Linked DNA regions of Homo sapiens: region 2 is linked to region 1. A link means that fine-mapping ties the variant in region 1 to the expression of a gene that starts in the linked region. Tissue or cell type: aorta. Region 1 holds a variant in brackets; the other region holds the start of a gene. All regions are shown on one strand. Distances are between the middles of the regions.

Evidence for each region. PIP is the estimated chance that this variant, and not a neighbour inherited with it, causes the effect.
Region 2: it holds the start of CEP104, and the variant in region 1 is fine-mapped to the expression of CEP104 in aorta (GTEx, PIP above 0.99).

Annotation. Positions count from the first base shown.
Region 1 is chr1:3,772,435-3,780,434 of GRCh38, forward strand. SMIM1 (small integral membrane protein 1 (Vel blood group)) reads left to right here and starts at 315. Exons shown (of 4, transcript NM_001288583.2): 1 at 315-354; 2 at 629-747; 3 at 2,865-3,049; 4 at 3,361-3,522. The coding sequence starts at 2,940. The coding sequence ends at 3,487. LRRC47 (leucine rich repeat containing 47) reads right to left here. Exons shown (of 7, transcript NM_020710.3): 7 at 6,125-8,000. RefSeq lists a silencer at 1-601, enhancers at 663-1,178, 1,179-1,694, 2,434-2,578, 2,727-3,242, 3,158-3,217 and cis regulatory regions at 2,522-2,538, 2,530. The variant T/C (reference allele first, on the strand shown) is at 3,242.
Region 2 is chr1:3,852,306-3,860,305 of GRCh38, forward strand. It overlaps CEP104 (centrosomal protein 104), which reads right to left and starts at 4,906. Exons shown (of 22, transcript NM_014704.4): 1 at 4,584-4,906; 2 at 1-116. The coding sequence starts at 102. DFFB (DNA fragmentation factor subunit beta) reads left to right here and starts at 5,171. Exons shown (of 7, transcript NM_004402.4): 1 at 5,171-5,412; 2 at 6,413-6,539. The coding sequence starts at 5,299. RefSeq lists silencers at 4,573-5,072, 6,003-6,052 and an enhancer at 5,213-5,392.

The DNA.
Region 1 (8,000 bases):
CTAGAGCCCCGGCCCCTTCCGGACGAGGCGTCTCCCGGCCCCACTCGCCCCGCCCCCAGCCCCTTCTGGACCAGGCGCCTCCCCGCTGCGGCCCTAGCCCTTCCCCGCATGGCCCCGCCCCCCTCTCGCCCCGCCCCCTCTCGCCCCGCCCCCGGCCCCTTCTGGACCAGGCGCCTCCCCGCTACTGGCCCCAGACCTTCCCCGCATGGCCCCGCCCACCACTCTAGCCCCGCCACCTTCCGGACCAGACACCTCCCCGCTGCTGGCTCCAGCCCTTCCCCGCGTGGCCCCGCCCCCGCCCTCGCCCCCTGCCCAGGCCCGGCCCCTGCGGAGCCCAGAGACGCGGGGACACAGGTGAGGCGCGCGGGGTCCGGGCTGCGGCTTCCCGGTGCGGCCGCAGTGGGCAGGTGCGACTGTGCGCGGCCTCGCTGGCTGAGAACTGGCGGGGGTGGGGGCGTGCCCTGGACTGACCCCCACCGGCCTAACCCGCGGTGCGGGGCCAGGGCCGGAACTGCCCGCCCGGCTCCTTGCCCGGCTCCTTGTGGCTGCTGGGGACCCCCGACACCAGCCACTTTCCCTTCCCGGCCCTTAGCAAGATCGGCTTCTCCGGTCACCTTTATTTTTTTAGGCTCGAGGCGTCTGCCGCACCTCAGCCCACGACCTGCCCCGCTGGGAGGTGCGGGCCGCTGGCCAGGCCCTGACCGCAACCTGGCCCAGAGGCCCCAGCCCTCAGGCAAGGTTCTCCGGGTAAGTGTGGGGCCCTGAGGCGCTGTGGGGTGAAGAGGTCTATGGAGGGGCGCCTGTGTACCTAGGGCCTTCCTGCACTCACAAGCCCCCAGGAGGTGCCAGGATCCGGGAGCCTCCCAGGGCCTGGAGGGGAGTCCCTGATGGGTTCCTGCCGCCACACCTGTGACCATCACATGAGTGTGGAGAGACGTTTACTGAGCAAGTGAGGGAGGCCAGCCTCAAGGGCCGGCTCTGGTGGCTGTGCACCGGGGTGACTTGGGAACAACGTGTTCTACGTCAGCAAGACAGGAACCCATGATCCCAGAGTTGAACACACTGGGCTTGACCCCTCCCACCGGGAGGCCCATGGTGGGCTGCTGCTGTGGACTTGGAGCCTCAGCACTCCCGAGACTAATGCTGCGTGGATGTCGGGTTGCAAGGCGGCTGCTGCAGCTCCAGCAGCTCCAGCCATCACGTCGAGTCTGGAAGAAGGAGGTGGCTGCTGCTGCTTTCACAGAAGCAAACTCTCCCATCCCCTGCTGCACCCTGGCTCCTGGACCCCAGCTGGGTGACTTGGGAAAGCAGGGGTGGTGGTATTAAGCTTGTCTTACCCGGGTCATGGCTGTTACCTGGGGCTGGCACATTGCTGCTGGGACCAGAATGGGATTCTGCACACCAGGCAAGAGGGCGTGAACCTCGGGTAGGCAGCTGACCGCTCCACATGCTCCGGGAAAACAGCACCCATACTCCAGTAGAGGCTGGGCCTCTCCGGGCCTGAGTGCCAGGCTGCACTGAGCCAGGGCTCCCACCGAAGGCACACTTTATGGCTTTGAGACAGCTCCTTCTGCCTCTCTGGGCTTTGGGGGAAGGCAGACATGGAAGTGCCGGGAGTCTCAGAACTGCCTGGGGCCTGAGTTTCTGAGCTGGCTTCTTGCAGGGGAGTGGCTGCTGTGCCTTTAGGCCTCTGTGCCGATGACCTGGGAGGAAGGTCAGCCTTCCCCGCTGGAGGGGGCCCAGCAAAGCCTCAGCTCCTAGAAGTGAGGGGCCTGCCATTGCCTGCCCGAGGACCCCACTCCTGGGGGCCAGATGCTGAGAGGGGACACTGGGGGCCCAGCAGACCAGAGAGCTGACCCCAGTCCCACAGCCTGGGTGGGTTGTCAACTTCTCGTGCCCCCTCCAACTCCTCCACCCCCACACCCCCTTAGGTAAATAGGAGGTCGAAACAGAGGCCAGAGGGTAAAGGAGGTGCTTAGAGTCCGGGCTGGCTCAGGCCGGCCGGGCAGCTGTGCTAGTGCTTGGAGTTCCTGCTCAGTCCCCGTGGTCTCCTCGCCCCTCTGGGCACTTGGGCTGCCAGGCACCGAGCTGAGTGCCGAGATGCAAAGATGAGTCCCAGGTCTGCAGGAGTTGGAGCCCAGCAGGGAGCTGGCCTTGGGGCCGGGCCCCTCCTGCTCTGGGCAGCCACCCAGCCCTACGACCCTCCTGTCTCTGTAGGGCCTCCCCAAGGCCTTGAATCCACCCCGGCCCCGTGCTCAGTGCATCATGCCCCCCAAGCCCCAGCCCTCCTAGAGGTGTGGGTGGGGGAGGGGCTGCAACCCACACAGGCTGAGGACACAGCTGCTGCCACTGCCTGGGGCCAGCCACGCATCCTCCCCAGACAGGGACCGGTCTAGCTGTACCAGCCGCTGCCCCGGACCTGCTGCCCTGCCCCACCCCCCCCTCCCCTGGCCAGCCTCCCCAGAGGCCAGAAGGCGCCTTATCGGGCAGGGTTAAGGAGGGGGACAGTTATCAGGGGCTGCAGCCTAGATTGGGCCACAATGTCCTCGTCTCTTGAGGGTGGCAGGCTGTGCAGGCTCCCTGATAAAAGCACCGGGGAAGGGAGGCTCCTGGAGTGTGCTGGAAGGAAACACTGGCCTCCCACATGCCTGAGGTCAGGGCTTGGCCTGAGATGGAATTCTCGCTTGGTCCCATCCTCCCGGCCTGACCCTGGGCAAATGACTCTACCACTTTGTGTCTAGGTCACCTGTTAAGTCAGGCGACAGACCCGGTGAGGGAGTCAGCCCCCGACCCTTAGTGCCCCTCTCCTAACAGCAGCCTCAGAGGGGGTCTTGACTGCCGCCCTCCATCCGCTTGTTTTACAGTGAAGCCACAGCCTGGCCACCTGTCTTGATCTCCCCACCGAGAAGGCCCCGCCCCTCCCGCTGCAGCCCCACAGCATGCAGCCCCAGGAGAGCCACGTCCACTATAGTAGGTGGGAGGACGGCAGCAGGGACGGAGTCAGCCTAGGGGCTGTGTCCAGCACAGAAGAGGCCTCACGCTGCCGCAGGTGAGGGGCCTGAGGGCAGCCTGCCAGCCATAGCAGGCTGGTGTCTCCCTCCAGAGACGCCTGCCCTAACCCCTGCTACCGGCCCCATCACCCTCCACCCCATCCTGGCTGGGAGCCCACGGTCCAGCAGCTCAGCAAACCGCAGCCTTTGGCCTTCCCTCTGGTTGGCTGTGGGCGGGGAGAGCTTCCTCT[T/C]GACTCCAGCAGAGCGCCCAGGCCCCTCCCCCTGACCCAGACCAACGGCCACAGTCCACTTAGGGGGCCCCTCATGCGGCCCTGGCCTGGGGCTCACCTCCAGTTGGTTCTCACCCCAGGATCTCCCAGAGGCTGTGCACGGGCAAGCTGGGCATCGCCATGAAGGTGCTGGGCGGCGTGGCCCTCTTCTGGATCATCTTCATCCTGGGCTACCTCACAGGCTACTATGTGCACAAGTGCAAATAAATGCTGCCCCGCATGCACGCGGGGGGCTGGCCGCACACGTGAGAGCACAGGCCTGGAGACACACCCCTTGTACACATGGACCCCCCCACAGACACGGACCCTGCGGCACACACAGCGCACAGGGCACACGCGCTGGCAGCCAGGCACACGAAGACACCAGGTGCACAGCTGTCATCGGCCCCACACGGGGGCGCACAAACACCTGGCACACAGCCCTTCAAAGGACCTACAAACAGCTGGGCACACGTGGCTGGGAGGCCTGGGCCCAGCCTCAGCAGGAGCTGCAGGACACACCCAGGCTGGGCCCTGCGGCCTGGAGCCCCCAGCTACAGCCTCCTCTCTCCCAGGGCCCAGCCCCTTCCCTTGTGAAGGCCAGGATGAGGGGTTCCTTCAGCGGACAAACCGAGCCCACCTCCCTGGCAGCCCCCCGGGGTGGGATCCTCCCGGCTGCTTTCCTCCGTGGGAGCAGTGTGCAGAGCTGTGTGGCCCTGGGCAGGCCCCTGTCCTCTCTGGGCCTTTCTGACTCCTGGTTTTGTAAGGGTGGCTATGTGTCCCCCGCCCTTGTCTCAGATGCACCATATCTTCCTTAGTAAGTGGGCACAGTTCTTCCTAGGCAGCCCACCACGCGCAGAGGCTGGGTGTGTCCCTCTTGGGGCCGGCGGCTGCCAGGGAGGACCCGGGTCTACCCTCCCTCCCCAGGGATGGGCCTGGTCCCTCCAAGTACTCCTTGTGGGCCAAGAGCCTGTGTACAGAGGCATTAAGTGTCTGTTGAATGAACGGTGGATGACAGCCCTTGCCATAGTTACCTGGCCAGGCGTGACATCCAGGAAGGCTGTGGGAAGGGCTTGTTTCCCCGGGGCAGGCCCCCCTCCCATGTGGCTCTAGGAATGCACCCCTACCAATTGGGCCCTCTGGCGAGGACAGCCGGCAGGCCTGGGGACCCGGATGTGGCTGGACCTCAGCTGTGTCCCAGGGACTTCGGTCCCATTCCCCCCACCCCGATCCTGGCCTCCAGTCCCAGCCCCCGGTCCCAACCTCCATTCTCTTGGTAGGTGCTTTCCTGGGTCTTGTGTTTGGCCCTCACCTACCACAAAAGATCCCAAAAAGCCTTGCCAGAAACATCCCCTTAGGGAAGGGGTCCTCACCCCAGGGCTGGGGGTGGGAGACACGGGCAGCCACTATCCTCACGGGCACAGAGAAGGGAGGCCACAGGGCCAGATGAGGTTATTGGAGGGCTGAGGCTGCGCCTGCCCCAGGCCAGGTCCCGCCGAAAGCATCAAGTCAGGTAAACAGGAGGGGCTGCGCCAGTCTTGGTAGGGAGGCAGACTCCACATCATCCGCCTTTGGGGCGAGCAGGCTCACTTGAGATCTGCCTGGGCCAGCCGGTGGCAGGTGGAGCTGCATGGCTGATTGCACACTGCCCCAAGGCTCCTGGCTCCAAACCCAAGGAGGGAGCCCAAGGGCCTGTCCTGGGCTGCGGTCTGAAGCAATGATGCTTTCCTGGGAGCCTGTTGTTGGGTGGGCTGCTGCCTGCCCCAGCCCCATGACAGCCTGGATCTTCAAAAAGAGATCCCTACCTCTGACCTGCCACTCCCAAGGAGGGAAAGGAGTAGCCAGCTGGTACCCTCCCTGAAGCCCAGCTTCACAGGACAGCACTGCCTTGGGGCTGCTGTAAGGAAGTGGCAGAGGCCGCTGGGCCCAGCAGTTTGGCTGCATGGGCCCCAGAAGGCAGCACTCCGACCTGGGGGTCCTGGGGCTGGGCCTCCCCAAGAACTGGTGCGGCCCAGGAGACAGGCGAGGGCACAGGATGGGGATGGGAGCTGTCCCAGTTCTACAGTCAGAGGGGAAGTGGCCCTGGTGCTTCTGCCACGGGTCCCGCATGCCAGTGATGCCCACGCACCCCCACAAATGCTCCTTCCCACCTGTCAGGGGCTGGCATCAGATGGCACAGGCGCATGTCGGGTCTGCCCTGGATCTGTCTGGCTGCATCTGGGTCCGCCCTGGCAGGGGCCCAGCATCTTCAGCCAGGGGCTCCACCAGCAGCCCTGCCAGCCCCAGCAGGGGAGGCTACAGGCAGACACCCACGGGTGCTCATTGGGCCAGGCACTCAAGTAACCCACAGCCGCCTCTCGGGCACACCACTTGTCCCCTAAGTGACCATGGTGGAGACAGCAGCTCCAGCCCCAGTACCCCCAGGGTCATGGACCTAGGCTGAGCTGAGCAGTGTCCTTACAGCTCTGGGAGGGTTGGGGAGAGGATGGGACAGGACCCTGCTGAGTGGCCGCCTGGCCTACCCTCCCAGAGACTCACGAACAGGAGGATCTGCTGTGGATGCGTCTGGGGCCTGGGCTCCTCTGACTGTGCACCTGGGGTATCCAGGCAGCCCGACACCTCTGGTCCACCTTGTGCTCCAGGCAGGGGCCCAGCAGGGTGAGGCCAGTTCCCAGGACCCCTGGTCAAGGGCACCAGCTTCCCCATGACAGTGGCAGGTGCCTCTTGCTCCCTGCTGGCAAGATCTGGGTGGGGACAGGAGGCCCTCAGCCTCCCCACATAGAAGCCACCACTGGGCTAGAGTGAGCTTTGTGACACTTCGAGCAACAACCTCTGGCAGTGCCGGTGGGAAAGGATCTGCTGGGCCAGGTGCGGAGCTGTTTTTATTAGTGAGTCGGGGGGTGGGGTGGGGTGAAGAAAACATCAGAGACACCTGTGCTGCGAGTTAAATACATTTCCAGCATCTCACGCATCACAAGCTGCATCAGGAAAGGGCACAGCATGTGGCAGCCTCATCCACACCCACGCAGTGACAGATGTGTTACAGCATGGACACCAAGTCCCCGGGAGCCAAGATGGCAGCTCCAGCATCCCTCCCTTCCTCCCTTCCTCCTTCCCGGGCTGGGCCGGGCCATGCAGAGAAAGGGCAGCCTCTGCCATGGCAGCCCCAAATCACCTCTCAGAGCAACTGTCTGGGGTCCCCAGCCCCAGAACTCCAGCAGAGTCCTGGCCTGGGGAAGCCCCCGTGCCGCCTCAAGCCTCCAGCAGGGCAGGCCCCTGGCCAACTGTGGCATCTGCCTTGACTGCCCAGAGCAGCAGGAATCAGGTTTTGGGAGGACACAAGGCAAGGCAGTCATCTGACACACCCACGGCAGTCCAGCTGGCACTGAGTGTGTGGGCCTCGTCCTGTCTGGAGTCCCCTCCCTCCCACAGTGGGCGAGACGGGAAGGCCTGGCGGTGACCAGACAAGTGGGTCCAGGTCTCAAGGCAGCCTGGCCCATGTCCTGCAAGGCTCTGAAGAGCCACCCAGCTGTTAGTCTGCCCACTGCACAGGGCCCCGGGCCTCTCAGGTTGACAACTAAAGGTGTGTGGGCTGTGGGGCTCTTGCAGATGCTTCCCAAAATCACCAGTCATTTCTACAGACACAGAAATCGAGACACTGAACAGAGAACAAATGGTGTCATTCGATAAAGCTGATGAGTCTGCTTCTCACATGGCACCCAGATCGTAAGGCAGTGGGGTCTGTAAAATCATCGCGGTGGCTGGCCGTGTCCTCATGAGCCAAGCACACTGACTCCCGGGAGTGGTGTGCACGCACATGTGGTGCCTGGACATACACGAAGACACATGGACGTGGGGGTCTGACCTGGACATTCACAACGGAAACGTCTACAACAGAAGGCGCCCAGGACCCACCTTTCTGGCGCATAAATGAAGATTTTTGGCTCAAAAACCTAAGCATCCTCCAGCTTTTGCTACCATCTGTCCCTCGGCTGGCTGAGGACTGCCGATGCTTCCCAAGCAGAGGCGTCTGGTCCACTCCTGGGGCTCCACCTGCCTGTCACTGCAGCACCAGCGTGCACACGATGGAAACCCCACCGATGCCGCTCTCCTCCGCTTGGCCCCGCTGAGCCAGGGTGAGGTGCTGCCACTGCCTTCAGCCTACAGGCTGCTTGCCTGAAGGGGTCTCCACATCTCCACCCCCACAAAGCAATCCAACAGCAGTATGAAGAGACGCAATTCTGCCAATTCTAAGGTCACATTAAAACTTTTCCCCCCAAGATTATGATCACTGCCAGCTGGAGAACCCAACGCCCTTGCACATGCCAAGCTGCATCCTGGCATGATATGGTTTTACAAGATGCTGCGTCATAGAAAGTGACCGTGCCGTTCAAGGAAACGCACATCGGTTGGCTTCCCAAGTTTTCGGGTCTCCGAACCAGTGACAGTCACGTGTCGCTCAGTGACACATGAGAAACGTGTGCTTAGCCGCTGCTGTGTGATCACAGAGTCTTTACACAAGCCTCGATGGTGCATGTAGTTTTATTTATGTGTTTTCATCTGGAAAACCAAGTGTCCCAGCAGCATGACTGAACATCACTCACTTCCCCTACTTGATCTACAAGGCCAACGACGAGAGCCCAGACCAGGATTCCAAACACACTGCACGAGAATATTGTGGATCCGCTGTCAGGTAAGTGTCCGTCACTGACCCAGACGCTGTTACGTGGCACATGACTGT
Region 2 (8,000 bases), 80 kb after region 1:
CCACCCACTGACAGTTGGCGCGTGGATCATGAGCTCCCGGGCACTGAAGCCGTCTTCGTGTCCAGATGAGCTGACGACTACAAATCCAATCTTGTGGGGCATTCTGCACGTTTGGGCTGTTTATAAGAGCAGGAAAAACTTCTTTAAAACAAAGGAATTCACTAACACATGGACATTTAAAGGGTTGGTTCATGCCTTGCTAACACACACAATAATGCACTAAGTATTCAGAATTTTCCCATCTCTTTGAAAAGAGTCTATTTTTTTTTGTTAAACACTTTTATAGATGCTTCTGGTTCTGCTTAAGATATCATTTAAGTTATCTTGACTTTTCCCAAATATGTGTCCAAAAAGTTTGACCAGTGCTGTGGATTGTGCTCCCCAAAAGGATACGCTGAAGTTCCACGTGTGGTACCCGTGAAGGAGACCTCATTTGAAAATAGGGTCTCTGTGGGTGTGATCTAGTTAAAATGAGGTCCTCGGGGTGGGCCCAATGCAACGTGACTTCTAAGAAGGGAAGAGACACAGCCACACAAAGGGAGAGCGCCATGTGGTGACAGAGGCAGAGACCGGAGCAACGCATCTCTAAGCGGGCCGGCCAAGGACGGCTGAGGATGGCCAGCAGGCGCCCAAGGTTAGGAAGAAGCCAGGAGGGATCCTGCCCTACAGCCTCCAGAGCGAGAGTGCAGCCCTGTCCATGCAGCCATCTGACTTCTGCCTGCAGAATGAATTTCTGGTGTTTTAAGCCATCTAGTTTATGATATTTTGCTATGTCTAGAATATAAACACAAACTTCTTTCTATTAGTTAGGAAACTAATACAACCAGTATGTTAATTAGTTATACAATACCAAGGGGAAAAAGGCAACGTAAGCGCTAGCATTAACAACTGCTAAATGAATGTGTATGACCAGAAGGAAGAGCAGGAATGACAGGCAGGCATATTAAGTACAAAAAGGTTCATGCAGAGTTAGGTTGAGGGACTGACTCACAGGACATTGAGCCCAATTTGCTCAGGGACTCTGGGTTACTTTTCAGTTACTAAGCCAGTCAGATTCCTCCTAAGTAAGCCAATTTGGGTTAGGTCTAAATCATCGGGGGAAAAAAAAAAAGGCTCCTCACTAAACCAGGATAAAGAAGACTCCATCAGAAAGTTCTCTGGGATAAGATATACTATTAATTGAAATTCCCAATAGGAGGTAACATATAAACATACCCCCACATAAAACTGTACGTATTTTGACATGCTTGATGCATGATCTAGATCTTTCTTTTACTTTCATTGAGAATTCGAAGAGGACCACTTCAATATATTAATTATTGGCTGGCATTATTGCTAATGTTTCTTGGAATGTATGAACAAAAGCACTAAAATAGAATGATAAACCATCGAGATTCTAGTTATTTTTTGCACAAAGTTCACTGCAAGATGTTACTGTATATTAAACAAAAACAAAACTAAACCAACTCAGAAAATAATTTTTAAAAAGCCCCCCAGAACAGGATGAGGCTGGGTGTGGTGGTTCCTGCCTATAATCTCAGCACTTTGGGAGACCGAGGTGGAAGGATCACTTGAGCCCAGGAGTTCGAGACCAGCCTGGGTAAGAGAGTGAGACCCCGTTTCTAAAAAACCAAACAAAAAAAGAATTTTGAAAGGATGAGTGTGATTTAACCCACTGTTAGCTGCACGGCCCCACCTGCACTCTGGGCAACCTATGCCAGAAACGCACAGCCCATGGCTCCCACTCCTTCGTGACCTGGCACTTCTGGGTCGCATGGGCTCTGAGCCTAGAGGTACTTTTCCCTTGGCCACAGCATCTCTCTTCACCCACTCCCCATCCAACAGTGTGCCAGGTCTTATCAGGCCTGCCCTTCCTTCTGATCCCACTGTCTTTTCTAGACAGCAACCACCTGGTGTCCCCACCTGAAGCGCCTCCCTCAGACAAGTCCTAAGTTCCTATTGTGTGAACGTGCCTCAGGCCCAGCTCCAGTCATCTCCATCCATGTCCTAACTCCAGAGCTCTTGGTGGGCTCCCCATCTAGGGATCAATGCGCCAACTCTCCCCTGACCCTCACTTCTTGTCCTGAATTCTGAAGTCCAGCCAAACAATCAAAGCTCAAAGTTAATACCCTTCAGCTCTGAAGCCCTCCAATCCTTTCATCAGCTTTTTTTCCTTTTTTGAGACAAGAGTCTCAATCTATCACCCAGGCTGGAGTGCAGTGGCGTGATCTGGGCTCATTGTAACCTCTGTCTCCCTGGTTCATGTGATTCTTGTGGTTCAGCCTCTCAAGTAGCTGGGATTACAGGCATGCACCACCATGCCTGGCTAATTTTTTTTTTTTTTTTTTTTTGGTATTTTAGTAGAGACGGGGTTTTGCCATGTTGGCCAGGCTGGTCTCGAACTCCTGGCCAATCTGCCCGCCTTGGCCTCCCAAAGTGCTGGGATTACAGGCATAAGCCACCATGCCAGGCCCCTTTCATCATCTTTCAGGGCAGGGCTTGTCACTCCCTATTCCACCTTGAAAATACCTCTTGTGCCCAGGCTGTTGGGTTCCAGTCTCCAAATTTTTTTTTTTTTTTTTTTGAGAGAGGGTCTCACTCTGTCACCCAGGCTGGAGTGCAGTGGCGTGATCGCGGCTCACTGCGACCTCTGCCTCCTGGGTTCAAGTGATTCTCCCGCCTCAGCCTCCCAAGTAGCTAGTATTACAGGTGCGCACCACCACACCCAGCTAATTTTTGTATTTTTAGTAGAGATGGGGTTTCACCATGTTGGCCAGGCTGGTCTCGAACTCCTGACCTTAGGTGATCCACCCGCCTCAGCCTCCCAAAGTGTTGGGATTACAGGCGTGGCCAATAAGCCCAGCCCCGATTTTTTTTTTTTTTTTTTTTTTAATACAGGTTCTCGCTCTGTTGCCCAGGCTGTACTGCTGCAGTGGCGTGATCATAGCTCACTGTAACCATGAACTCTCGGGCTCAAATGATCCTCTTGTCTCAGCCTCCTGAGCAGCTAGGACTACAGGCACATGCCACCATGCACAGCTACTTTTTTTTTTTTTTTTTGTAGGGATGGGGTTTCACTGTGTTGTCTAGGCTGGTCTTGAACTCCTCCCACCTTAGTGTCCCAAAGTGTTGGGATTACAGGCGTGAGCCGCCGAGCCTGGCTAGTCTCTGAACCTAACCAACACTCTCTGTTACGGCTCGAAGACATAAATATAGGACCTTTTCAGTCAAACAGAAGGGTGTTTCCAGTATGCTATACTGCCCCCAACAAATCTAAAACAAAGTACTGGCATTTAAGAACCAGCTAAGAGAAATGCACAGGGACTGTGGAGGCAATGCTATTACCTCAGTCTGGTATTTGAAAAGGATTCCTTTTTTAGTCTACCCCCTCCCAAAGACCTTCCAGTTGTACCCTAGGGTCCCCTCTGTGTAAACCTTCAAGTGTTACATAAGATACTTGGAATGTCACTGAAGGATGCCACTTTTAGGCTCTATAAAAATCACCATTAACAATTTGGGAAGAAGCAAAGCTCTGTTGAACATCCAGTTATTGGCTGGTCTTCCTCACCAGAGGCATGAGGGATCCCTGTTGTCCCAGGGGCAGCCATCGACATCCCGACAAATGCCAGAGTACATCTCTCCCCAGGCAGCGATGACTCCATGGCGGTCTCATCCCTCACTACACTTTTCCTAGTGCTGGCATGGTAAAAGGCAATTAACTATAAATTAAACGGAAACTCAGTGTAGCAACTTCCATTTTGTTACAAGACTAGGAAACAAAACTTGTCTCTGATTTTCTTTTTAAGAAGACTTTTAAGTGTGACTGCGCGCGGTGGCTCATGCCTGTAATCCCAGCACTTCGGGAGGCCGAGGAGGGCGTATTACTTGAGGTCAGGAGTTCGAGACCAGCCTGGCCAACATGGTGAAACCCCGTCTCTACTAAAAATAAAAAAATTAGTCGGGCTACTCGGGAGGCTGAGGCAGGAGAATCGCTTGAACCCGGGAGGCGGAGGCTGCAGTGAGCTGAGATCGTGCCATTGCACTCCAGCCTGGGCGACAGAGCGAGACCGTCTCAAAGGCTTATGGGTTTCTGATCAAGTCATCTTAGCGACTGAAAGGGCTTCAGAGAAATCTGAACTTAAGTGCAAACAAAACAAAACAAACTCCAAAACAAAAAACAACCAACCATCAGACTTTAATCTCTATAGGGACAGAGCAATTTTCCTCAAACTTTTGCTCAGCAGAACACATCTGAAACTGGCCCCCTATGTGCTACGCATCCAGAAGAGGAAAAGCCGGATCTGAAAACAATATTCCACGCTAAATGGGCCGTCCCGGCCGGGGCAGGCGGTCCCAGCACCCGTGCTGAGCTCCCCGGCATACGGCACGACGGGGCCGCGCCGGCTCTTCGGCGACAGCAAGGCCGGCATCTAACTCCACACCGTCCGCGCTTGCACCGCGCACCCAGGCTTCGTACCCAGCTCCCAGGTGGGGACCGCGCCCCCGCGGCGCCCGCGCCCCGCGCCCCGCGCCCCGCTCCCCACTCCGGCCCTGGGCCGGCGCCGCAGCGGCCCGGAAGGTACCTGCTTAGAGGGAAGGGCCCCGACTGGCGCTGCCGCGGCCCCGGTGGAGAGGGCGGCTGGGTCGGAGCGGTGCCGCGGCCCGGGGAGGCGGCCAGGCGGCGCCTCAGCACCCGGACCCCAGGGGCGTGCGGGACCCGGCTCTCGTGGACTTCCTCGGCAGCCGCCGCTTCCTCAGACGGAACTCGGGGGGCGCCCCTTCCGCCGCCCCAGGCCGCCTTGCACCCCAAGCTGCTGCGGCAGTGACAGGGAAGAAGCAGACCCGGCCACCTCTGCCCATAGCCCCGGCCGCAGCCTCCACTCTCATGACAACCAAGCCCAGCCCTGGGCCAGGGCCTCTGCGCGTGCGCGACCCCGCCCCACCCCAGGCCGCGCCTGCGCACAAGGGGAGGGCTCCGCTACTCTGGCCCTCAGGGTTGTGTAGTTTCCGGGGCCACGGCACCTGGGCACACCAGGTGGCGTCGCGCCTTTGCTTTCCTGAGCCTTCTGAGTAAGGTAATGTGGTGTCCGTGGGGCGACGCCTGCGCACAAGACCGCGTCGGGCCTCACTTTTCCCAGGCCTTCTGGGTAATGTAGTTTCCGGGATCGGCACCCGGCCTGTGCCAGCTTGCAGAGCTCACCAGGTGCAGACCCCTGCGGCCAGGGCGAGGACGGATCTGAGCAGCTGGGCAGCAGGTGCCACCGCCTGTGGGACCCAGAGGGCTTGAGGACATCTGCAATGCTCCAGAAGCCCAAGAGCGTGAAGCTGCGGGCCCTGCGCAGCCCGAGGAAGTTCGGCGTGGCTGGCCGGAGCTGCCAGGAGGTGCTGCGCAAGGGCTGTCTCCGCTTCCAGGTGCCCGCTGGGCTAGGCGGGGACGGCCCGTCGGGGAGGCGTGTGGGGAGAATAGGAGGTGCCGCTTTTCCTCTTCCAAAACGGAGGGTGCAGGCGGCGCCCGGGGCGGGTAGTTTTCGTTCGCCTCAGCCGCTAGGACCCCGGGCCCCCGCAGCCTGGGGTTCCTGAGCGTGGCTTCAGAACGCAGGGGGGTTGGGGGACGACCTGGATCACCCCTTCCCTCTTCCCACCTCTCGGGCAGGACAGCCCTGCATCAGAGCTAGGAGACCCGGGTAGAGTGCCAGGTACTGGCACGCGGGGTCACGGCTGCTCTGCCTGTCCGGCCTCAGCTTCCCCTTGAGTAACATGAAAGGCTTGGCTAGGTGGGCTCTGCAGGCCCCTTCCAGCCCTCGCAGCTGGGGATTGCAATCGTCACCTTATTCTAGGTTGGTTTTCTTTTTAGACCAGTACTAGGGTTACCAGGTGTGCATTGCCGGGGTCGGTGCGGGTGGGGTGGGAGTAGCCATAAAATGCCTAAAACTGACCAGTGCAGAGTAACAGGGAACCGGACTCCAACAAATTAACAGTGCCACGTGCCGGTCACACTTGTGCACAGAGGCAACCAACCGTTCTCCTTCGTGTGCCAGCACCGCTCTGGCGGCTGTGTGCTGGGGATGGTGGTGTTCAGCTCCTGGCAGCAGGGAGGCGGCGCTGTCAAAGACAGGCTCTATTTGAAGCGCCCTCAGGAGCTCATTTAAAAAGGGTGAATCCTGCAGAGCCAGCAGTCACCCCCTGATGTATGTTTTTCCTGACTCTTCGTATTTTAGAACGGCCCGCAGTCAGGCGCCCTTGCTCCCGCTCCCTCATCCTTGCCTGGGCGTTGGAGCGACTGTGGCATACAGGCGGCAGCCTGAGCCTGCTTCTTTAAGCACAGCTCATTCCGGTCGTTTGTGAGGCCTGCAGATGCAAAGCCCTCGTCTTGAGACCCTTCCTCCTCCTGTTGCTTCTCCCGTCCCTGCAGCTCCCTGAGCGCGGTTCCCGGCTGTGCCTGTACGAGGATGGCACGGAGCTGACGGAAGATTACTTCCCCAGTGTTCCCGACAACGCCGAGCTGGTGCTGCTCACCTTGGGCCAGGCCTGGCAGGGCTGTGAGTGGCAAGGACTTTGGAGGTGGGCGGGAAGCTGGCACTCTCCGAGGTCCTGGGGGCTTAGCTCCAGGTGCCCATCAGGGTGGGGAAGAGTCCCCCTTACTGTGAACTCTCGGGTCTCAAGGAGGAAGCCCTCTGGAGGCAGAACTGGTCAGCGTCGCTTAGGTGGCAGAGTCCTCAGTCCTCTCGTTCATGAACCCAGCTGTTCAATTGGTCGTCTTTTTCTTCAAAAAATCTTTTAATTTTATTTGCGTTCATTTGAGGTGTCCTAGCAATTCCCAAGAGCAGAGGGAGGGCTTTGGGGTTGGGGCCTGCACAGTTTCATGGGGAAGGTGGAGCCAGGAAGAGATGCTGTTCTGTTCTGCTGGGCTGAGCACCCTTCTGGAAGGACGAGGTGGTGGTTCGTGGGATGCTCTCACATTGTTCTCGGTTGGTGTTTGCTAAGATGCTGTCCTCAGGGCTCAAGTTTGGGGGCAATTGCTTTGAGAGGTGGTTCTTTCGGGGCATCTGTATTGAAGCCTCAGGACACAAAGTCCTGCCTTTCAGAACCAGCCGAATGCCAAGGTCTGCGCTTGTTTGACTCCCGTAAAAGAGAGCTTTTGGCCACTGGGGCAGGAGATGCCATCATGTGCCTTTACCTGGGAGGGTCGGCCAGTGTTGTGCAAATGGGGTCAGGCTCCAGGAGATGCTTCTGGCAGCCCAGGAAGGACATGGGTGCTCTGAGGGATGGAGCTGTGGCTCCTTGGCCTAAGGGGCAAAAAGAGAGAAGTCGAAGAGTAACATCCATGTGGCCACCTCCCCGGCTACAGTGTTGGGGGCTCCACTGTCAGCATTGAGGGGTGACGCCTCTGGTGTGTGCTCCAAGGTTGCAAACCCCCTTTCTCCACTGGGCCTTGTGCTTTTAGAGGAGGCAGCTGGAAAATGTATCACTGTGATGCCCCCTGGGGTGGCCCCTGCAGGAGGTGGGGGCTGGGCAGGGGTATGCTCAGGGTATGCCTCACCTTTGGATGTTATCTTTCTTTCCCATTTCAGGGCATAGTTGAAAGACAGCAGAGCACGTTGCTCTCTCTCTGTCTCTCCCTGCATCTCGCAGTCTCTGTCTCTCTCCTCTGTCTCTGTCTCTGGCTCTCTCTGTCTGTCTCTGTCTCTCTCTCTCTCTGTCCTTCCTTTCTCTGGCGCTTTATCCTCCTCTCTTCGCTGAGACCGCTAGTCCTCCTCCTTGTTAGACTTAAAAAAAATTTTTTTTCTTTTCTTTTATGAAAACATTGAGATGGGGTCTCCCTCTGTTGCACAGGCTGGCCTCAAACTCCTGGGCTCAAGAAGTCCTCCTACTTTGGCTTCCCAAAGTGCTGGGATTACAGGCATGAGCCACTGTGCCTGGCCAAAATATTTTTGTTTTATTTATATTTTGAAACTTTGTTGCCCAGGCTGGAGTGCAGTGGCACAAACCTTGCTCACTGT